2 separate regions of the Homo sapiens genome follow, and region 2 is linked to region 1. The links come from fine-mapping of genetic effects on gene expression. A gene starts in region 1. The other region holds a variant in brackets. All regions are shown on one strand. Distances are between the middles of the regions.

The links. PIP is the estimated chance that this variant, and not a neighbour inherited with it, causes the effect.
Region 2: its variant is the best candidate, but not a certain one, in a credible set for the expression of TESMIN in CD4 T cells (BLUEPRINT, PIP 0.61).

Annotation. Positions count from the first base shown.
Region 1 is chr11:68,747,102-68,756,248 of GRCh38, reverse strand. TESMIN (testis expressed metallothionein like protein) reads left to right here and starts at 4,729. Exons shown (of 10, transcript NM_004923.3): 1 at 4,729-4,829; 2 at 5,550-6,059; 3 at 8,883-9,041. The coding sequence starts at 5,589. CPT1A (carnitine palmitoyltransferase 1A) reads left to right here. Exons shown (of 19, transcript NM_001876.4): 19 at 1-1,366. RefSeq lists silencers at 4,497-4,616, 4,627-4,916 and an enhancer at 4,617-5,602.
Region 2 is chr11:68,700,984-68,710,130 of GRCh38, reverse strand. TESMIN (testis expressed metallothionein like protein) reads left to right here. Exons shown (of 10, transcript NM_004923.3): 10 at 1,631-2,691. The coding sequence ends at 1,823. Among named protein-coding and RNA genes, the nearest start is that of GAL, 21 kb to the right of the region's middle. RefSeq lists an enhancer at 2,654-3,412. The variant TTG/G (reference allele first, on the strand shown) is at 4,107.

The DNA of each region.
Region 1 (9,147 bases):
TGACCACTTGGTTCTAGTTGGGCCTGACTCCTTCAGAGTGCTGCACCCCGATAGTACAACAGCGATGGCTGAACTGTTGGAGTCGATGGAAGGTGCTTGCCGGAGAACACGTGCCTTTTTTTTTTTTTTTTTTTTTGAGATGGAGTTTCACTCTTGTTGCCCAGGCTGGAGTGCAGTGGTGCAATCTCGGCTCACTGCAGCATCTGCCTTGCAGGTTCAAGCGATTCTCCTGTCTCAGCCTCCCAAGTAGCTGGGATTACACGCCCAACACCATGCCCTGCTAATTTTTGTATTTTTAGTAGAGACGGGGTTTCATCATATTGGTCAGGCTGGTCTCGAACTCCTGACCTCAGGTGATCCACCTGCCTCAGCCTCCCAAAGTGCTGGGATTACAGGCATGAGCCACCATGCGCGGCCCACATGCATGTTTTATGTATGTATACTTCATGATGTAAAAATCCCACCTTTATGGGCCAAAGATTTTTTTTCTCCTGAAAGCAAGAAAAAATGAAAACAAAAGACAAAAAAAAAAAAAAAAGCGTCCAGGCGCGGTGGCTCATGCGTGTAATCCCAGCACTTTGGGAGGCCAAGGCGGGCGGATCACGAGGTCAGGAGATGGAGACCATCCTGGCTAACACGGTGAAACCCCGTCTCTACTAAAAATTCAAAAAATGAGCCGGGCGTGGTGGCGGGCGCCTGTAGTCCCAGCTACTCAGGAGGCTGAGGCAGGAGAATGGCGTGAACCCGGGAGGCGGAGCTTGCAGTGAGCCGAGATCGCTCCACTGCACTCCAGCCTGGGCGACAGAGCGAGACTCCGTCTAAAAAAAAAAGCAAAAACAAACCAACAACAAAAGCCCCTGACTGTCCGTCAAGCAGGCAGCGGGGATGTAGCTCTCTCTGCCCTGGGCAAGAATAGCACTTCCCGTTAAAAGCCAGCAGCCGGCGTCAGTCCCTATCAGAGCCAGCTAGATCATGCACTGTTGACCACTGAGCAATCTGTGTTACACTAGAGTTCACAGGGCATTTTGAGTGTAGACGTGAGTGCTTAAACATATTTGGGTTTCTCTCTCAGGTTTTAAATGTTTCAAATGTAATTGTTGCTCATCAGTGCAGTTATCAATGCAATTTTATATTCCTTGAGGGGAGAAAGAGGGGTCTTATTGTACATGTCCAAGGGGGGTGATAAGAGTATTATCTGTTTAATTTAATTGGAACAAACCATTGTCTTAACGCAGCCATGGTTTGAATTTGTTATCTTGGGCTGACCGGTGCATGTAAATACAGTATGCTCTTTGGATGTAAATCTTAGAAATGCAGTGTGAATGTAGGTTATCATTAATAAAACATTAACCCCAGTCTACTACAAGATTTGTTTCTGTCTCTTTTGTTATATTAAGGGGATTATAAGTCAAGGACCAAGTTCAGATACTTGAGACAAAGTGGAAAGTCTCAGCATATGGAAACAAGGCCTTGGAGGAGACCATGGACATCACCAAGTTCATGTGCTGGGCTGGAAAGAAAAGCCTGTTGATTTTCACTTGCTGTGCATTTATTCATCCATTCCATTGCCTCAATGCTGAGAACAGTGCCTGACACATAAAAGATGCTCAATAAATATGTTAAAAGTAATGCATGAATTCCATTTTTCTGTTTTTCTTGAGCACCTGTATTAGGCCATTCTCACATTGCTGTAAAGAAATAGCTGAGACTGGGTAATTTATAAGAGGTTTAATTGGCTCTCAGTTCTGCAGGCTATACAGGAAGCATGGAGGCATCTGCTTCTGGGGAGGCCTCAAACAGCTTTTTACTCATGGTGGAAGGCAAAGGGGGAGCAGGCATTCTACATGGTGAAAGGAGACAGAGAGAGAAAGAGAGGAGGTGCTCTCTTACACATTTGCAAACAACCAGATCTGAGAGAGAGAGAGGAGGTGCTCTCTTACACACTTGCGAACAACCAGATCTCACAGGAACTCACGCACTCTATGGTGAGGACAGTAGCAAGAGGGATGGTGCTGTTCATGAGAAATGCACGCCCATGATCCAGTCACTTCCCATCAGGCCCCACCTCCAACATTAGGGATTACCACTGAACCTGAGATTTGGGTGGGGACACACATCCAAACCATATCAGCGCCTGTTCTAGGCACTGGGGAGACAGCAGTGACCCCACCAGGTTCTGGCTGTCTCATTAGTCCATTTTTACATTGCTGTAAAGAACTTCTTGAGACTGGGTAAGTATAAAGGAAAGACAGTCAATTGACTCACAGTTCAGCATGGCTGGGGAGGCCTCAGGAAACTTATAATCATGGCAGAAGGTGAAGGGGAAGCAAGAAACCTGTTACATGGCAGCAGAGGAGAGAGAGTGAGGGGGAATTGCCGAACACTTTTAAGCCATCAGATCTTGTGAGAACTCACTTCTTATTGCAAGAACAGCGTAGGGGAACCGCCTCCTTGATCCAATCACCTCCCACCAGGCCCCTCCCTTGACACAGAGGGATTACAATTCAAGATGAGATTTGGGTGGGGACACAGAGCCAAACCATATCACAGAGGAAAAAGAGAACAAGCCAACCAGTTGAAGGATTTTAAGTGTTCTGAGGCAACTAAGAGGATCATTGGGAGGGGGTGGTAGCTGGCAGGGAGGTTGACCCACTTAGAGTGGGTTGAGCTGAGACCTGAGAGACTCGACGGAGCCAGCCCGGCCAGTGCAGCAGGGCAGCAAGCATCTAGGAGCAGCAGGTGCAGAGCCTCCAGGCTTGATTGCAACCCGTGGGTGACCCCCACAGGTGGCTGTGTATGCCTGGCATGATGCTACTCAGTAGACGTCTGATTCTGATTAGTAAACGAATGAACGGTGCAACCTTGTGGGTTACTCTCTCGCTTGGGCCACTCAAGCTATGCATAATTCTTGGGCTCTTCGATTTATTATTTTTATTATTTTTTCTGCTTCTGTGAGTGTTTTTTGTTGTTGTTGTTTTTGTTTGTTTGATTTTTGAGATGGAGTTTCAATCTTTTTGCCCAGGCTAAAGTACAATGGTGCAATCTCAGCTCACTGCAACCTCCGCCTCCCAGGTTCAAGCAATTCTCCTGCCTCAGCCTCACAAATAGCTGGGATTGCAGGTGTGCACCACCATGCCTAGCTAATTTTGTATTTTTAGTAGAGACAGGGTTTCACCATGTTAGTCAGGCTGGTCTTGAACTCCTGACTTTAAGTGATCTGACCACCTTGGCCTCCCAGAGTGCTGGGATTACAGGCATGAGCCACCACGCCCAGCCCCAGGCAAAATTTTCTTGATTTTTGAATGTTAAATGTACAACTAAATAGTACACGGTGTTGCTGTGCCTTGGGTACTACCCTTTAAAAATTTAGAAAAGTATTTAATTTTTAAAAGTGAGATTAGAAAGCTGATGTTTTACATTCTTTATTTTTACCAAAACAGTACCTGAGTAGACAGTACCTGAGGCTGTCTCCCCAGCACCCACTCCCACCAGTCCCTCTACACCCTTTGCAGTTTTCGCCATCACTTGAATTAAACTTTCACCTCCTCTTGATTAAACAGTGATATCTATTGACTCCTTAAAGATGAAATAGCTCATTCCCCACCCAAAATTTGAGACTTTCATTGTATTTGTGAGTTTTTTTTTTTTTTTCTGAGAGGGAGCCTTTCTCTGTTGGTCAGGCTGGAGTACAGTGACACAATCTCAGCTCACTGCAACCCCCATCTCCCAGGTTCAAGCCTCAGCCTTCTATGTAGCTGGGACTACAGGCGTGCGCCACTACGCCCAGCTAGTTTTTGTATTTTTTAGTAGAGACGGAGTTTCACTATATGTTGGCCAGGCTGGTCTCGAACTCCTGACCTCAGGTGATCCACCCGCCTCGGCCTCCCAAAGTGCTGGGATTACAGACGTGAGCCACCACGCCCAGCCGTATTTGTTACTTCTATTTCGGGACCAACTCCATCAGTTGCACCTGTAAGCTGCGTCACCAAGGACCGGGAGTGGGTGCAAGGCTGGGAACGTGCGGTGCAAGCCCCTGCCCTCTGTCCACCCGCAGCGTCCCAGGCCGGGATCTGTCTTGAGAGCTCGAGTGTAGAAAAATGTTTTATTTTATTTTATTTATTTTTTTGAGACGGAGTCTAGCTCTGTGGCACAGGCTGGAGTGCAGTGGCGGGATCTCGGCTCACTGCAACCTCCACCTCCCGGGCTCAAGCGATTCTCCTGCCTCAGCCTTCCAAGTAGCTGGGATTACAGGCGCGTGCCACCACGGCCAGCTAATTTTTGTATTTTTAGTAGAGACGGGGTTTCACCATGTTGCCCAGGCTGGTTTTGAACTCCTGACCTCAAGTAATCCGCCTGCCTCGGCCTCCCAAAGTGCTGGGACTACAGGCGTGAGCAACCACGCCTGGCCAGAAAAATATAACTGAAGCCCAAGGTCAGAAGCCAAGCTAGGCAGTCCCACTTAGCGCTGCCCGAGTTGATGGGGACCTCAGTTTCCCCACCTGAGCCTGGATCGGCTGAACCTGGGAGTGCCTCCCCTGACCCGCTCTGGCAACAGCGGCAGTCCAGGCCCCGCCCCTCGCGACTCTGTCTCCTCCCGCCCCAGACCACGCCCACCACACCTCCCTGGCCCCGCCTTTACCTCCCCGCCCCGACCTCGACTCCGCCCCACGCCCAGGCCCCGCCCACTGCCCGGGCGCCTCTTCCCCTCCCCCCAGGTTCCTGTCCCTCACCCTTCCCCCTTCTCCAACCGCCAACGGCCGCCTGCGCCTGAGGCCCGGCCCACGCCCCATCCCGCTCGCTCCACGCTGCGGCAGCCCCGGCGGCCCCAGGTGCGTCCCTCCGAGGAGGAATGACGGGGCGGTCCCCGGGCTGGGCCTCGGCTCTGCAGGCGGGGATGGGGGCTGCCGGGCCGGGTCGGGCCCCTGCGGGTGGGCGGAGGGCGGCGGGCCGTGGGCGAGGCCGCCCCTCACCTGGTCGCACCTCACCTGGCCCCCCCTCCCCTGGCTGCTCCTCACCTGACCCCCTCCTCGGCCGCCCCTCACCTGGCCCCCTCCCCTGGGCGCCCCTCACCTGACCCCCACCCCGGCCGGCCCCTCTCCTGGCCGCCCCTTACCTGGTCGCCCCTCCCCTGACTCCCTCCCCTGGTCGCTCCTCACCTGGCCGCCCCTCACCTGGCCCCCTCCCCTGGCCGCCCCTCCCCTGGTCGCCCCTCCCGTGACCCCCTCCCCGGCCGCCCCTCCCCTGGTCGCCGCTCACCTGACCGCCTCCCCTGGTCGCTCCTCACCTGGCCGCCCCTCACCTGGCCGCCCCTCACCTAATCGCCCCTCATCTGGTCGCCCCTCCCCTGACCCCCTCACCTGGTCGCCCTTCCCCGGGCCCCTCACCTGGCCCTCCCTCACCAGGCCGCCCCCTCCCCTAGCCGCCCCTCACCTGGTCCCCTCCCCTGGCCGCCCCTCCCTTGGCTGCCCCTCCCTTGGCTGTCCCCTTTCCTGGCCGCCCCTCCCCTCGTCCTCTCCTCTGGCTGCCTCTCACCTGGCCGCGTGTTGCAGGTGCGCGGCCCCCGCCATCCCGCCCCGCCGCCCTGCGCCATGGAGGAGGGCCCTCTGCCGGGCGGGCTGCCCAGCCCCGAGGATGCGATGGTGACGGAGCTCTTAAGCCCCGAGGGTCCGTTCGCTTCGGAGAACATCGGCCTGAAGGCCCCCGTGAAGTACGAGGAGGACGAGTTCCACGTCTTCAAAGAAGCGTACCTGGGCCCGGCGGACCCCAAGGAACCCGTCCTGCACGCGTTCAACCCCGCGCTGGGCGCCGACTGCAAGGGCCAGGTCAAGGCGAAGCTCGCGGGGGGCGACAGCGACGGCGGGGAGCTCCTCGGGGAGTACCCCGGGATCCCAGAGCTCAGCGCGCTGGAGGACGTCGCGCTCCTGCAGGCCCCGCAGCCGCCCGCCTGCAACGTGCACTTCCTGTCCTCGCTGCTACCCGCGCACCGCAGCCCGGCGGTGTTGCCCCTGGGCGCCTGGGTCCTGGAAGGAGCCTCCCACCCGGGCGTCCGCATGATCCCAGTAAGAACCGCCTGGGGAATGGGCACAGCTCCCCCTCCATCCCTTCCCCAACCCATCTGAGGCTGCTAGTGTACCCCAGGATTTCCCTCTACAAGCATTTTCCCTGGTGACACCACACACAGCCCACCGGAGTCACTGATTCTCGGTAGAGCGTATACTCTTTGTCGTCTTCCTAATCCAACATGCATCGGCCCAGCCAAGCCCTTTCCCCTGGAGGGAATTCTGCCCTGCACCAGTCGTCCAAAGCTGACCTAACCATGCAGACGGCGGACAACAAAAAAAGGGGGAAAGCTAGGACGTAGGTTCCCTTGGGCCCTGTTGCTATCCTTGGCTTAAGGAGAGAGGCCCGCTGTCTGCTGGTAACTATTGTCTGTGAAAACAAACGCAATGTGGTGGAGGGTTGGCGTGTTTGCATCTTGCATTTTTTTTTTCCTTTAACTTTACCAGGCTTGGAATCCACAGCAAGGACTCAGAGTTAATACTTGGATTTTCCGGGCCTTGAAGTCAAGATGTGAGATCTTCCCTTTGCTAATGAGTAATAGCTCTTCAAGCATATGCAATGTAAATCAGAGCCTAAAGAAATGCTTGCCAGCTCTCAGCCGACTGCCCTCTCTAGCTGTAGATGACCGCTGATAATTTTCCGCTTTGTTCTTGCCAAAACTAATGAGTTTTCAAAGGAAACAAAGGGTCCCAGGAAAATGTGTTCTCGACCCCTCAAAAAGGACCCAGCTCAGAAAACGAGACCACTCATCCATGAGGTCATTTTAGTAAGTTGTAGATGAAGCGTTTGTGGGACACAATGCTTGAGTCAGTATTGAGATGGCTGGAGCCTGACCCTGTATCATAAGCCAGAGCAGCAGGAGCTTGGATTTCTGCTCTTCCGGTTTTCTGTTATGGTAATTGCCAGTCCTTAGTGTACAGGAAAAGGATGGGCAGAGGCTGGGGCCTCCACTGACCTCTGTTTGTCCTCAGAGGAGCCATAGAGCTCACCAGTTCCCCCAGCCGTTTCCCAGGACAGAGGTCTTTCTCACAGCCTTTCTCAGAGGGCTTGAAATGTTAAGAACTGCATTTTGCTGCCCAGCCGGATTGGTGTCCAGCGCCTCCTGCCCGTAGGTCCTAGCTCGGCTCATTTCCTCACAGAGTGGAGTCAGAAAGCATTAATCAGAACAGGGAAGATAATACAAAAATTAACCGGGTGTGGTGGCGCACACCTGTAATCCCAGCTACTCGGGAGGCTGAGGCAGGAGAATTGCTTGAACCTGGGAGGCGAAGGCTGCAGTGAGCCGAGATTGCACCACTGCACTCCAGCCTGAGCGACAGAGTGAGACCCTGTCTTAAAAAACAAACAAAACACACACAAGAGAATTCTCTGATGTTAAAGATAGTAAAATTCTCTTTAATCCAATTTTAAGAGATTGCTGGTCTGACAAACTAAAGGAGAGACTTTGCTTTTTAAATTTTTATTGACTGCTTTCTGATTCATTAATAAAATGGACCAGATACAGCACAGACATGTTTATCGTTTAAACAGAATGGAATTATTTTCAGTAAATATTCAGGATCAGTTGCTAATTTCCTTCTTCTAGAAATTCATTCCCACATGTTGACCTTTGTTTTGAAAGGTCAGAAATGGAATTTTAGTATAAGTAGTTCAGATATTAGTTGCATAGGTCTGAGGAAATGATATATTTATTATAGTAGTATTTGTTGATTACAGGGAGATAAGTTAAATCTAAACTGGGATGACGTGCATAGCACATCCCCCAAAGCAGCAAGTAGAAGAAAATTTTATGTGTATTTATATGAAATTTAAAATTTCTAAATAAAGCTACTTAAAATATAGCTAAACTTTATCTCTTTTAAGATTTATACCTAGATGCTAGTCTGCTGTGCTGAGTGATTTGCCCATACATGGGAAATATGATTTGTTTGGGCCTCTGATTTTATTGGGCTGGACAAGCTCCAATTTGAGTCACTATCTGCATTTTGAAAGATACCTGCTCTGTGATTTTTATTTGAGGTCTTCAGTATGTTACCTTAGAGCCACCATCTTTTTGGAAGGGCTCTGTGGCCTGCCTCCTGGCCTTTGGGGAGCCCCACTGTCCTCTGGTCCAGGCAGCTCGGGCAAGTGTAGGTGGAGGAGGAGGGGAGGGGAGGATGCAAAGCGTGGGTTTCCCAGTCCTCCTCACATTCCTACAGATTGTAAAAAGCAGCATCCCAATGTTGAAACAATCCTGATTGTAATTTTTTTTTAACCACGAGGATTCTTACTTTTAAAAATTCTATTGATTTTCAGTATTATCCCTGTATTTCTCCATATCTTTGGTAATTTTGTCATCGGGTTGACAGTTGTTACAGAAGACAGCTTGAACACAAAGCTGGCAGCCACTCCCTACTCTCCACCATTTCATGTTTGTTGTCCTACTATTAAGGCAGGAAAGGGCTACTACCTAATTACAAATCTTCCTATAAACACATCATAAATAATATTAAAACGTTACCAAGGATTTGGGGCTTTTTGAGGAAAAAACAATTGACTAGAACATCTAATTCAAACTACTGAGCATGCTGGAAGAATGTGTGATGGGGCTGGGCTGGAATGCAATGGCACTGTCTCAGCTCACAGCAACCTCCGCCTCCCAGGTTCAAGCAGTTCTCCTGCCTCAACCTCTCCGGTAGCTGGGAGTGTGCCACCATGCCTAGTAGAGACAGGGTTTCACCATAACTTCTACTTATCACTGAGATTTCAATTTTCTAAATTATGCAACTGCAAGAGCCAGTGTCCACCATGTGTTCTCTAAAATAATTATTGCTTTTTTCTAGGTTGAAATCAAGGAAGCAGGTGGTACTACTACAAGTAATAATCCGGAAGAAGCAACTTTGCAGAATCTTCTTGCTCAGGAATCCTGTTGCAAGTTCCCATCGTCCCAGGAACTAGAGGATGCCTCCTGCTGTTCTCTTAAGAAAGATTCCAACCCAATGGTAATTATGCTAAAGAAGATGTGTAGGACTAACATTATACTAAATGCTGGACCCCATCATTACTAAGTCGACTGATCATTTCACTCGTTTTTCATTTCACGTATGT
Region 2 (9,147 bases), 46 kb after region 1:
GCTGGAGTGCAGTGGTGCGATCACAGCTCACGCAGCCTCAACCTCCCCAGGTTCAGGTGATCCTCCCACCTCAGCCTCCTGAGTAGCTGGGACTACAGGCACGCACCACCACATCCGGCTGATTTTTCTACTTTTTGTAGAGATGGGGTCTCGCCATATTGGTCTCGAACTCCTGAACTGTGATTCATCCACCTCTGAGTCCCAAACTGCTGAGATTACAGGCGTAAGCCACCGCACCCAGCTGACCCACAGAGGTCTTTATCAGTAAAAATTTACCAAAACCTGGCTGCATTGTCTGTGAAGTGATGTGTGAAAATGTCATCGCCTGCAGCAGGATGTGTGTTCTGTGGAGTCCGGTGGGGGCCTGTACATTGGAGCCTCGTCTTGCAGTGTTAGCAGCCCTTCTTTTCCCAAGGGCAGCCCTATCTTTTCTTCTTCAACCAAAGTCATCGTGTATTGTCTTTATAGAGAGACTTTAATCCAACATTTTGCTTTATTTTTATAATCCAACACTTTTTAATGTTTTATAAAGCTTTCCTGAAAATTTTTCGACTTAGCGCCACCTGGGTTGCTATCTAGCTAAGCCACAGTTGCCCCCTGAGCTCAGTGGGGAGAATAGCTGGCGCTATGTGATGCGGTTCAACTTGTCTTCCAGAACCTCTTTCACAGCTCCAAGCGGCATTGATGGGGAAGGCTGTCCTGACAGCAGGACCCCAAGGTTTGACAGGCGAGTCCTCAGAACCTTGGCCTTCTCTGGCTGCACGTGGGCCTGCGGGGAGGACAGGCAGACACCCAGCGTGGACAGGACTCAGAGCAAAGCTGCTCGGCTTGTCCCCGTGCCCTGCCTCAGCCAAGAGTCCTGCTTCTGCAATTTCCTGCCTGGCCCACGTGCTTGACACTGTAGCCCGGGATCCTCTGGGTTCGTCAGTGAATCTAATTTTGAGGAAATTTCAAACCCGCCATGAGAGGCATGTCAAAAACGGACAGATTTACTTGTCCTCTGTGTTATTCTTCTAAAACCAGTTAATCCTTTCTTTCTTTTCTTTTCTTTCTTTTTTTTTTTTTTTAAGACAGGGTCTCCGCCGGGTGTGGTGGCTCACGCCTGTAATCCTAACACTTTGAGAGGCCGAGGAGGGCAGATCATGAGGTCAGGAGATCGAGACCATCCTGGCCAACATGGCAAAACCCTGTCTCTACTAAAAATACAAAAATTAGCCAGGTGTGGTGGTGCATGCCTGTGATCCCAGCTACTCAGGAGGCTGAGGCAGGAGAATCACTTGAACCAGGGAGTTGGAGGTTGCAGTGAGCCGAGATCGTGCCATTGCACTCCAGCCTGGCAACAGAGCAGGACTCAGTATCAAAAAAAAAAAAAGGGTCTCACTTTGTTGCCCAGGCTGGTCTCAAACTCCTGGCTTCAGACCATCCTCCTGCCTTGGCCTCCCAAGGTGCTGGGATTACAGACCACTGTGCCCAGCCTAATAGTTTCCAGTATGAGGAAGACAACGTTAGATTTTAGTGGATGATGTTCTTTAAAATAGCATGGACAAGCAATGTTCTGTTGAATATAAATAGTACTGTAGGTAGAAATGGTGCACTGTTGAGCGGCCTTTAACTGCTCTGTTTCTGACAGGCGGCCTTCCTCATGCATCTCCTGGGAGGTGGTGGAGGCCACATGCGCCTGCCTGCTTGCTCAGGGAGAAGAGGCCGAGAAAGAACACTGCTCCAAGTGCCTGGCAGAGCAGATGATCCTGGAGGAATTTGGAAGGTGCTTATCACAGATTCTCCACACTGAGTTTAAATCTAAGGGATTGAAAATGGAGTAGAGTATAAAGTGTGAATGCATGTTGATTTTGTCTTAGTCTAGAAATCTCTAGTTTAGAAAGGATGTTTAGGGGAACATGAGGCTGGCTCTGCAGCAACAACCAGGCTCCCCTGCATCCCTGGGCCCAGGGAGTTTACTCAGAGCTCTCTGAAGATGTGGCAACCCATGCCCCCTTTTCTGAGGAGGTGCATGGCCTGAGCATTGTTTGTCTGGCCCAGAGGAGAGAGCTTGGGTTCCCATAGTCCTGGGAGAGTGTCTGCAGGGCGGCGGAGGGCAGAGCAGGGCAGGGGAGGGCACAGCAGGCCCTGCGAAGGGCAGAGCGGGGCAGGGGAGGGCAGAGCAGGCCCTGCGGAGAGCTCACTCTGGTCGACTCTTCCTCTCAGAGAATGTTGCTCTGGAGGCTGCTCTGCATGAAAACCCTAATGGTTTCTTGTTTGTTTTTCAAATTATTTAGAAATAAGTTCTCCGGATGGGCTGTTGTGATACCACTTAAAATCTCTAGAGAACTACTGAACACCTAAAGATTTTCTGTAGCGTAGATATTTCCCCAGAGGCACGCGAACTGTCAGTCTTTCCTAAGGCCCCCGGGAGACGCAGGCAATGGGGCCTCGCAGGCCAGGCTTGCACCAGCATGTCTTGAGTTAGAGGACTTAAAATTATCCAGTTTCTTCTGTGTTTCTACTTGAATTGTGGAAAAGCTCTATTATCCAATTAACTTCTCCATAATTATTGTTGTAATATTATTATTGTTTGTAAAACATGGTTCACATAACTAGCTTGTGGAAACCAGCAGGTAAAATGAATTCTTAAGTTGACGCTTTTGGTTCTGTTGTAAAGCAAAGATGAATAAAAATTTCCAATGTCTTCAATTGTTGTCATTAACTTAGTAACTGAAAATGTGTTCATCTGATGAGTACCCACCCTGAAATGTATTGAGAGAATATTCTTTCATGTTTCTGCATTCATTACTAGTGTTGGCCACTTAGAGGGTGTTCAGGAAACTCAAGTACAAATGCAGCAGAGACAGAAGTGTGGCTGCCGGGCCCAGGCACTGGGCACATAAGTGAGCAAGCAACCAGGGAGGAAGCTGTCTTTTGTGGAGCTGTCTGGAACAGTCTAGTTGCAAACACAGCCACAGGAAGCCACAGAGGAGAAAAGGAAGACTGAATTCTTCCCCTTTGCAATTCCCTTTGGACCCCTGGGATCCAGAGTCTGTGGCAGAAAACCAGAGGTAAAGACATGCATTGTGAGACGTGGAACCCTCAGCCAGCCGTACACCCCACTTGCTGTGTGTGCTTTCAGTCCTGTCAGCATCGCGGCGAACAGGGAGGCGCACTGCTGGGGGAGCCACCTGGCCTCCTTCACCCTTGGGAGCTGGAAGGTGACCTGGAAATGGGGACTTTGGGAGCTGCCTCTGGGGGGGCTGCCTCCATCCTGCTGTCCCTCTCGGCAACACTGCCAACAGCAAGATCTGCCAGCCACATGAGTACTGTTAAAGTTTCTAGTAGCTACATGTAAAACTTTGAAAAGGAGCAGGTAAAATTAGTTTTAATAATCTTTTATTTATCCCAATGTATCCAAAATACTATCGTTTCAATGTGTAATCAGAATGAAAATGATTGAGATTTCACATTCCTTTATGTGTACCCAATATTTGAAATGCAGGGTGTCTTGTACTCACAGCAGGTCTCAGTTGGCACCAGCCACACCTTAAGGGTTCGGGCGCCTCAGCACAGCCCTGGGGCACCGAGTGGAGGGAGGAAAAGGGAACAATGTCCTCCAGCATTCTCCTGAGGCAACGGCTGCCTAGGGAGATCCTGAACCAGGTGTGGCCCACCCGCGGAGCCCAGAGGAAGTGTGAGCAGGGAACTCAGTGTGGGGCTGGGGATACAGGCCCCCCACTTTGCACAGGAGCCTGCGCTGGCCAAGGATGCTCTGACTGTGGCCAGGTGTACTGAGCTAACGCCTGGAGGTGAGGGAAGAGCCAACCTGGGCAGGCACGAGCCCTGCAGGGTCTTCCGGCAGAGAAGAATTCACTGAGTAGGTGCCACTTGCAGGGAATCCCGTCTGAGAAGTGAAAGCCGAGATACAGACGTGCATAAAGCCACTATGCTGACCAGAGACAGTACAGAAGATGACTACAAAGCTAGAAAATCCCATCTCTTATGTGTTTGGCGGAGAGCCAGTGCTATTTTAAAACGATATACAAATTAACATATCATGTTCTTATTTGAGAGTGTAGCTGTGCAAATTTAACCATATCTTTTTTTTTTTTTTTTTTTTT[TTG/G]AGACGGAGTCTCACTCTGTTGCCCAGGCTGAAGTGCAATGGCGCGATCTCGGCTCACTGCAACCTCCGCCTTCTGGGTTCAAGTGATTCTCCTGCCTCAGCCTCCTGAGTAGCTGAGATTACAGGCGCGCACCACCACGCCCGGCTAATTTTTGTATTTTTAGTAGAGGTGGGGTTTCACCATGTTGGCCAGGCTGGTCTTGAACTCCTGATCTCAGGTGATCCGCCCCCCTGGGCCTCCCAAAGAGCTGGGATTACAGGCGTGAGCCACCGCGCCCAGCCTTAACCATATCTTTCTACTCTGTACCTACTAAATAACTCGGACCACCTTTGTGATTAAGGTTAGATTATCTGTTGGTTTTGGGTTTTTGTTTTGTTTATCCGAAAGAAAAAAAAACCTTGTTTTTTCATAGACACGGAGAAGAAATCATTGTTTAGAATGACACGCGCTGAAATCGCTCTTTCCTGTCAGTGAACACAGGCTGCGCACTGCACAGAAAGTCTGGCGGCCAGGGAGCATCCTTAGGAGAGAAGGTGCTGTTGGCGGCGGAAGGTCAGCAGAAGGCTTGGTGTATTTTTCATCTCGGCTTGGATGCTCCTATCCCTTTACAAACCTCTCACCAGTACCTGAAGTTCTGCCAGCACTGGTCCCCTTTCAGTGTGGGCGCGGTTTCAAACCATAATAAACAAGTTATCGTAAGGAGTCAGTTAAAATACTGTCTTAGGGAATTCAAAGGTTGAACCCTCATCCAAGATAAAATGATCAGAGCAGCCAGAGGATCCAGAGAGCAGGAGGGGGCGCAGAAGACGAAGCAGGGAGGAGGCCTCCCGTTCTGCAGGCGGCGCGCTCTTTAGGAAGGCACCGGGCACAGCTTTGTGCATGGGGCCGGCTGTGCGGTCTCCGTGCTGCACTCTCTCCCCAGGAGTCCTTAGCCTCAGAGGAGGGAGGAAGCACGACAGGAGGGATCACCGTGAGGCATCTTCCCCCAGCCCTGCCTCCATCCTGCTCCCAACCCCCGGCCCCCGGCAGAGACTGGAGAGCCACAGGGAGCACTGCCCGGCCCCAGCCACCGATAAAACTGGAATTGAAGACTGTCATTGCATGGATGTTCTCTTCATATATTTAAAAATGACTATCAGGAAAAAGTTTGAGCCTCCTAAAAATGGTAGCTGGTTTGTTTTTCAACAACAAACTTTAATAAAAACTTTAATGTTTGATATTTTAAATTTTGCCTTGACTTTCAGGAAATTCAAAAGTAAATCTATTCAATACCAGAAATCACATTAGCCCAGGTTTAGGATTAACTGTCCCTCTCTTTTTTCCATAAAGCTTTACTTTTTTAAACATGCTTTTTATTTGTACTATTACATACATCTTTTACTGTAAACCATTTCATATGTTTGTTGGAAATAGATGGACTATAGAAACATTATTACCGAATTATGAAGACAGAGTCTGCAGTGACAACCTTTTTAATGATGATTCCCTAGAAATATATATATTTTAATAGAGGCAGAGTCTCACTCTGTTGCCTATGCTGTAGTGCTGTGGTGCGATCATAGCTCACTGCAGCCTCAAACTCCTGGCTTCAAGCAATGCTCCCAGGTAGCTAGAACTACAGGCTCACACCATCATACTCAGCTAAGTTTCTGTATTTTTATTTTTTGTAGAGACAGGGTCTTGCTATATTGCCCAGGCCTCAAACTCCTAGCCTCAAATGATCTTCCCTCCTTGACCTCCTGAAGCACTGAGATTACAGGTGTGAGCCACCATGCTGGGTCTCTATTTATTTATTTTTTTTACTAGAGTATTTTTTAGGGTAGTTTTAGGTTCACAGCAAAACTGAGCAGAAAGTGCAGAGATTTCCCATATAATCCATGCCCCCCAACACCGCAGCCTCCCCACTACCAACATTCCTCACCAGAGCCGTCCTTTTGTTACAACTGATGAACCTACAGTGATACACCATCATCCAAAGTGATACACCACAAACCCAAAGCCCATGCTGACGTTAGGATTCCCTCTCGTTATTCCACATGCTATGGGTTTTGACAAATGTACAATGGCACATATCCAGGGTTACAGCACACAGAACAGTCTCACTGCCCTAAACCACCCCTGTGCTCTGCCTGTTCATCCTTCCCTCCCCACAACTCCTGGCAATCACTGATATTTTCACTCTCTCCACAGTTTTACCTTTCCCAGAATGTCACTTAAGTGGGATCATACAGTAGGTCGCCTCTTCAGACTAGCTTCTTTCACTTAGTAATATGCATTTATGTCCTTCATATCTTTTCATGGCTTGATAGCTCATCTCCTTTTAGCACTGAATAATATTCCATTGTCTGGATATACCACTGTTCATCCCTTCCCCTCCTGAAGAACATCTGAGTTGCTTCCAAGTTTGGGCAACTCGGAATAAAGCTGCTGTAAATATCTGTATGTAGGTTTCTGTGTGGATGCAAGTTTTTAATGCCTTTGGGTAAACATCAATGGATTTACCCAATGATTCTGGATCATGTAATAAGAATATATTTAGTTTTGCATGAAACCACTATCTTCTTCCAAAGAAGCTGTTTCATTGAGTATTCCCACCAGCAGTGAATGAGAGTTTCTGTGGCTCCGCCTCCTCACCAACACATAGCGTTGTCAGTGTTTGGGATTTTGCCGGTTCTAATAGGTGTGTACTGGTATCTCATTGCCATTTTAATTTGCAGTTCCCCAGTGACATATGATGTTGAGCATATGTCCATATGCATACTTGCCAACTGCATATCTTCTTTGGTGAGATGTCAGTTGAGGTCTTTTGCTCATTGTTTAATTGGGTTGTTTCTTTTCTTATTGTTGGGTTTTAAGAATTCTTTGTATATTTTGGATAACAGTCCTTTATTAGATACGTCCTTTGCAAATATTTTCTCCCAGTCTGTGGCTTGTCTCCTCACTCTCCTGACAGTGTATTTTGCAGAACGGAAGTTTTTAATAAAGTCCAGCTCATCAATTTTTTTTTTCGTGGATCATGCCTTTGGCATAGTGTCTAAAAAATCATTGCCATATCCAGACCATCCATACTTTCTCCTGTGTTATCTTCTAGGGATTTTATTTTATTTTATTTTATTTTTGAGATGGAGTCTCTCTCTGTCCCCCAGGATGGAGTGCAGTGGGGCAATCTCAGCTCACTGCAACCTCCGCCTCCTGAGTTCAAGTGAGGCGACCCTCCTGCCTCAGCCTCCTGAGTAGCTGGGATTACAGGCGCCTGCTACCACACCTGGCTAAGTTTTGTATTTTTAGTAGAGACGGGGTTTCACCATGTTGGCCAGGCTGGTCTCGAACTCCTGACCTCAAGCAATCCTCCCACCTTGGCCTCCCAAAGTGCTAGGATTACACGTGTGAGTCACTGCACCTGGCCAATCTTCTAGGAATTTTATAGTTTACAACTTACATTTAGGTCTATGATCTATTTTGAATGAATTTTTGTGAGAGGGATAAGAGGCTTTATCTAGTCTTTTTTTGCATATGAATGTTCAGTTGTTTTGGCACCTTCTGTCAGAAAGGCTGTCTTTTCTCCATGGTATTGCTTTTGTTCCTTTGTCAGATATCAGTTGGCTCTATTTGTATGAGTCTGGGCCCTCTATTCTGTTCCATTGATCTATTTTTCTATTCTTTTACTAACACCACACCATCTTGATTACTGTAGCTTTATAGTAGCCTTCCAACTTTGTTCTTTTCTTTCCATTTTTTTTTTTTTGGCTATTCTGGGTCTTTAGGCTCTCCACATAAACTTTAGAATCAGGTTTTTTGTTTGTTTGTTTGTTTGTTTGTTGTTTTTGAGACAAGATCTCACTATGTTGTCCAAGTTGGAGTGCAGTGGCATGTGATCATAGCTCATTGCAGCATTGACCTCCCAGACTCAACTGATCCTCCTGCCTCAGCCTCCTGAGCAGCTGGGACCACAGGTGTACATCACCATGCCTGGCTAATTTTTTTTATTATTTATAGAGACAAGGTCTCACTATGTTGCCCAGGGTGGTCTCAAACTCCTGGGCTCAAGCGATCCTCCTGCCTTGGCCTCACAGAGTGCTGGGATTATAGGCATGAGCCACCATGCCTGGCCCAGGAATCAGTTTTTTGCTATCCACAAAATAACTTGCCAGAATTGTTATTGGAATTGTGTTGAATTTATACATCAGATTTGGAAGAACTAATATTTGACAATATTGAGTCTTCCTATCCACAAGCATGGAATATTTCTCCATTTATTTAGCTCTGTATTTATTTCTTTCATCAGAGTTATATAGTTTTCCTCATATAGGTTTTGGTAAATGCATGCCTAAGTATTACATTTTTGGGAGGTGCTAACGTAAGTGGTATTGCATTTTTAATTTCAAATTTTACTTGTTCATTGCTGGTATATAGGAAAGCTATTGACTTTTGTTTATTAACCTTGTATCCTGCAACTTTGCTATAATTGCTTATTAATTCCAGGACATTTGTTGTTGTTGTTGATGATACTTTTAGAGTTCTACATAGATGATCATGACGTCTGCAAACAAAGCTTTATTTATTCCTTCCCAATCTGTAAACTTCGTATATCCTTTTCTTATCTTATTGCATTAACTAGGCATTCCAGTACAATGTTTAAAAGAGTGATGAGAGGGGACATCTTTGGCTTCTTTTCTCACTATTAATTATGATATTAGCTGTAGGTTTTCAGTAGGTGTTCTTTACCATGTTGACAAAATTCGCCTCTATTTCTAGTTCTTATTAGGAATGGGTGTTAGACTTTGTAAAATGCTATTTCTGTGTGCATTGATATAATTAATGGATCTTTCTTCTTTAGCTTGTTGATTTGATTAATTACATCAATTGATTTTTGAATGTTAAACCAGCTTTGCATACCTGTGATAAATTCCACTTACTCATGGCATATAATTTTCTTTACACATTGTTGGATTTAACTTGCTAGTATTTTGTTGAGGATTTTTGCTTGTATGTTCATGAGAGATATTGGTCTATAGTTTTCTTTTAATGTCTTTGTCTG